Regions from separate parts of the Homo sapiens genome. Here region 1 is linked to region 2. Evidence: fine-mapped expression QTL. Tissue or cell type: non-classical monocytes. Region 2 holds a variant in brackets; the other region holds the start of a gene. All regions are shown on one strand. Distances are between the middles of the regions.

Evidence for each region. PIP is the estimated chance that this variant, and not a neighbour inherited with it, causes the effect.
Region 1: it holds the start of GPRC5C, and the variant in region 2 is fine-mapped to the expression of GPRC5C in non-classical monocytes (Schmiedel 2018, PIP 0.92).

The regions. Positions count from the first base shown.
Region 1 is chr17:74,430,580-74,433,079 of GRCh38, reverse strand. GPRC5C (G protein-coupled receptor class C group 5 member C) reads right to left here and starts at 992. Exons shown (of 4, transcript NM_022036.4): 1 at 939-992. RefSeq lists a silencer at 1,980-2,119.
Region 2 is chr17:74,729,906-74,732,657 of GRCh38, reverse strand. LOC124904057 (a long non-coding RNA gene) reads left to right here. Exons shown (of 3, transcript XR_007065905.1): 2 at 1,765-1,907; 3 at 2,322-2,752. It also overlaps a transcript of RAB37 not described here. Among named protein-coding and RNA genes, the nearest start is that of RAB37, 6.0 kb to the left of the region's middle. The variant T/C (reference allele first, on the strand shown) is at 1,340.

The DNA.
Region 1 (2,500 bases), 300 kb after region 2:
CAGCCGGGAGTGGGGGTTCGGGATCTAGGGGCCAGGCTACCAGAAGGGGAGGCGCTTTGATAGTCTGAATTTCCAAACTTCCCTCAGGGGGATTCTGAACCCTCTCGTCCCTACTTGGGTCGACGGTACTGGGGTCTACACCTGCGCTCCCTGGGTGGCTGGAATGGGGAGCAAGGGAACCAGTCACTCTCTCCCATTTTTAGGGCCACAGAAACCTGCCCTCCACATCCACAGTAGCAGGCGGCAGAGAGGACGCCACCCACGAGAGAGAGTGACCGCGGACTCCCACCGAGAGGCAGGCGGTGGAGGGGCTCCTCTTGGAGACCCCGATTATGGAGTGGTTTCCCCTCCCTCCAGCCCGAGCCGCAGCGCCGGGCTCCCCCACCCCCCCAGTCCCCAGCCGGCTCGGGTTTGAAAACTTTCAGCGACCGAGCGGAGTTGGCGCGGCGTCCCCAGCCCGCAGGATGTCCAGTCCCCCCGCCTCTGCCCTCGCCCACTCCCCGCCGTCCCGACCCGACTCTTCCGGGCGGCGGAGCGGGAAGGCAGCAGCCCTTACCTGGGACTCGCCGCCGGCCCCGCTCCAGCGCAGCGTTTGGGGCCAACTCCAGCCCCAGGCGGGGGGCGGGCGGGGGTGGGAGGGACGCGGCGCGGGGCGCTGGGCCAGGCCCGGTCCTGGCTGGGATGGCGGGGCCCGGGCCGGGACGCAGGGCCTGCCTCTCCCTGGGACCGAGGCTGAGCCAGGCGCGCTGGGTTGCTCGCTCTCGCGCGGGCCTGTCCCCAGGCAGGGCTCCTTGCTTTCGGCGAGGGTGGGCTGGAGCCTGCATCACCGTTACATCACCTCCATTCAGGGCGCTAATCGGGCGCCCGCCGCGCTCCAGGTACGTGCGCTCCGTTTACACAGGAACAAAGCCTGCCCGGCCCTCCCCGCCCCGACTCACCTCCAGGCTGAGCCGACTCGTACTTTCCGGCTGGTGAGGGAGATGGGAGTTTCTGGCCCTGCCGGCGTGTGGGTTGTTGCTGTTGACTGCCACGCCCCCGCATGCGGGCGCGCGCACACTCACGCGCACTCACTTTCTGGGCTCGGCCTTCGCCGGGGCAATTGGTGTGAGGGTGCAGCCCTGCGCACCCCCCACCGCGTCTTCCAGAGAGCGCGCCTACGGACACGCGCGGGGCTACCTTGGCGCGTCTCCGTGGGGGACACCTAGCCTTTGTCACCTTCGTCCTGGCCCTCCCGTGAGACACACTTCAGGCACAGTTCGCTGGGAGCGGGCCGGAGCGAGGCGCACACTCAAGACAGAGTCCGTCTTTGTCACGCCTTCTGCGCCCCCTCCCCTCCCCAGCTTGCACACGTGGACACACCGCACACCGAGGTTCGCCTTTTGCACGCACGGTCCTTCTCTGGGACCTCCACCAGTCACCAAGCGTACGTGGGATCGTCACCAAGCGCTCCTCTCACGCGTGGGCCGAGTCCAGACCACTCTGGACCGTGGGCAAAGGTCCCCCTCGGCCCGACTACCCCGCGCCCGGGTTTCCTGTGACCGTTCCAGGTTCTGCCCAACTCGGAGCGCGCTCTCCCCTCCCGGCGTCCCCGTTCCCTGCTCCGACTTGTCCTAATTAGCCTTCACGGTTTTGTTCCCCGAGGTACAGTGTTTAGCGCGACCCCCTGGGCCTCTGCGCTCCGGGACACGTTGGCTCTGACTCCGAGTCCGTCCTTTCCAGGAGGTCAGGTTCCCACCAGCCCCACCCCCCACTCCCTGTTCCGGGGTGGATCTGTGGGTTGCCACCCTTTCCCCTCCGGCCCCAGGAATCTGCTGAAGCTGGACCGCAGAAATTGGGAAGCGAATCCAGGCTGGTACTTATCCAGCCCGATAAACAAGAGATTTTCCGGCCGCCTTCCCCCGGGGCTGCTGGCCTCGCGGGGGGTGGGGTGCGCAGTCCTGGGGGCCCGCAGCGAGGCCTAGTTAGCCCGCGCCAGAGGCCCGTAGGGGCTGAGGCGCACAGAGGAGGGAGAGGTTGTTGGGCCTGGCCAGGGCCCTGGAGACGCGGAGGGAGGGCAGGGCGCCGAGTCTCGGGGTGCCGGTTCTCATGACGCCGAATTGCCTGGGGGATCGCCAGCGGTGCGCCGGTCGGAGCCAGCTGGTGGCGGGGCGGGCGGCCCGGAGTGTTTGCTCAACCCTGAGCGCCCGCGAGGGGGAGGGGAGGCAGCTGGTCACGGGCTAGGGGGTAGCAAGGTGGAGGAGCGGGGGCTGGGAAAGGGGAGGGTATCTCCCGGGCTGCTTGTTTGCGTGCCTGCCGCGGTCTACGACAACCGGGAGTCTAAACTCTATGAATCACCCGGAGTTGCTGGAGCGATAAACCTCAGGCTGGTTCCTCCCCTCGCACACCGGCTTCTCGGACTCCTGGAGGGAATGTTTGCTTAGCGGCCGGAGCTGGCGGTGAGGCCCTGGTTCTCTAGAACCCTGTATCCCTTCCTGGCCTTGCCCTCACGGGCTGGTCTGGG
Region 2 (2,752 bases):
ATCACACCACATACACCTCACACCACACACACTTCAAATCACACCCCAGACACACACACCTCACCATACACACACACTCACACCACACACACCTAACCCCTCAAATCACACCACACACCTCACCACGCACCTCAAATCACACCACACACCTGCCACACCCCTCAAATCACCTCACCACACACACCTCAAATCACACCTGCAGAGATGGGGGCAGGGGACTCCCTGCTATCCAGGTCGATGGCAGAAAACTTCAGAGCTGGGGAACAGCACAGCCCAAAGAGCACAGGGTCGGGATGTGGGAAGGAGACCCGGGCAGAGACTGGAGGGACAAGGCCTCAACTCATGTTTTGCAAAATGTGGCGCATGGACCCCCTGGGTCAGAACCCCCAGATTCTGGGCCCCCCACGTGGTTTTACTGAAGCAGCATGTGTATGAGGGAGCTTAGAATTTGCATTTCAGATGAGCTTCCCCCTGGAGGCTTTTATGTGCGCTGAAGGAGTGTTCGAAAACCACTGGTCTAAACTGTGCAACAGCTTGACCAACAGATGAGAGATTCAGACTTTATTTGGAAGGTAATAGTGAACCGTGAATGTTCAGGTGGGGGATGAGCAGAGTGAGGTGTTTTTTTTTTTTTGTTGTTGTTGTTTTGAGATGGAGTCTCACTCTGTTGCCCAGGCTGTAGCGCAATGGCATGATATTGGCTCGCCGCAACCTCCGCCTCCCAGGTTCAAGTGATTCTCTTGCCTCAGCCTCCCAAGTAGCTGGGATTACAGGCGTGTGCCACCACGCCTGGCAAACGTTTTTGTATTTTTAGTAGAGAAGGGGTTTTGCCATGTTGGCCAGGCTGGTCTTGAACTCCTGGCCTCAAGTGATCCGCCCGCCTCGGCCTCCCAAAGTGCTGGGATTACAGGTGTGAGCCACCACGCCTGGCCTGAGTGAAGGTTTTGAAAGAGGAATTTTGCATCAGTGTTTAGGCAAGACTAGGGAATTTGGGGGAAACTGAGGAGAGAGGTAACAAGGAGGACCTGAACTGTGGTGGACTGGAAAGACCCCTGTGTGAACCCCATCGACATCAGTGTGCCATAACCCCATCAGCACGACCCCCACAGCCAGTTTGATGGGGCTGGTAGTGGAGAATTTAGGGAAGGTCTTGACTGAGAGGCATCTACACAGGACCTGGGCAGGTCCCACTTCCAGAAGGCGATGGGCCTGGTAGTTTATGGGTGAAGGCATGCCCGAGGTAGTCACCCTGCTCACCTCTGGCTCCTCCAAAGTGGGAGACCAGGGGCTCTGTCCCTCCCCTGCCACCTGGGCGGCACTCAGCCTCCTGAGCGGAGCC[T/C]GTGGCAGCACCTGCCTCCCTTCCCATCATGCAGGAGTTGCAGGCTACAGCCTGGCCAGCGGCAGGGCCCTTATCCATGCCATATCTCAAATCTCCGTGAGAAGGACAGATGGGTAAACAAGTGTCTTGTAGCCTGGCTCTCCGGGGACCCCCAGACCGCTGATATCTGGAGGAGACCCCGATGTCCACCAGTTCTTTGCTCAGGTGTCCCCAGGCTGAGTTTCTGGCCAGGGGCTCAGGTCCTCACTCAGCGTAAGCAGGCAACAGGTTTGTCCTGAGATGCACCAGAACATCGGGTGCTGGCTGGTACCAAGCAGGCAGCCCAGGCTCTAGGAGGCCCACCCTGAGGTCAGTGGGAAAGCCCAGTGTGTCTCATCTCAGGCTAGACAAACAGTTTGACCACACACTTTCTTTTTCCTTCACAGGAAATCGGCCTCAATTTTCTTGCCAAGCTAGCGGCAAAATTTGGAGATCTCACCTCTGTGGTCTGTGGAACGTGAGTCAGACTTTGCATGTCCACAGCCACATCCACCCCACTCTCTTCCTTCCTCACCAGACAGGCAGAAGGGTGGGTGAGGAGATGCGGGTGTGACCCTGAGGGCAGGGTGTGCCCTGGCTGCTGAGAGCAGACTGGGCCTGGGCTGGGGTGGGTGACGCCTGGCACCAGGTCATCCTGGTTTGCTTCATGGCAGCCTGGTCCCAGACCTCAGGGATTGCCAGGTAGCCTTGGCCTCCTGGGTCTCAGCCCTTCCCTATTCAGCACTACCAGAGCCCAGCCGGTCCCAGTCTGGGGAGAGCCCTGGGAACTGGTGTTTCAGGGCCGATTCTAGGCCCCAGAACACACCCGAACCAGGCACTCACTTCCGCTTTGCCTCCTGGAAGGTCATGCAGAAGCCATGTTCATTCTGAACCCCTGCCTTCCTGGCTGTGACCCAGTGGGCAAGCCCATTTTTCTGAGTTTTCCTCTCTCTCTTCCCATCAGTGTGGCACTGCTGCGTCCTGACCCTGAGCGTGATCTCACAGGCCCTGTGCTCTGGTCTCAGAGGTTCCCAAACATCCGCGTTGTCCAAGAAGAGATGTTTGCTCTTCCCCATCTTGAGATGCTAGGATTCTGGAGTCCCAAGGGAAGGCCCTGCTCTTCCTGCCACAGCCCGAGAGAGGAGTGGAACCCTCTCCCAAGGTCTTCCCAGGAATTCAAGGGCAGCTGCAGCCGCAGGCACGGGACAACGCGGGGAGATGGGATGTGTGGTAAAGGAGGGATCCCTTGTCTCGCAGAGGGGCTGCGGGCAGAAAAAGCCGAGGGCACTGGGCTTCCTTAACCCGAGCTGCCCTTTTACCATTTTACCGAGGACTAAACACGGAACTGTAACCTGGGCCTGCCAGCTCCCTGAGACCCGTGTGACTGCTAAGTTT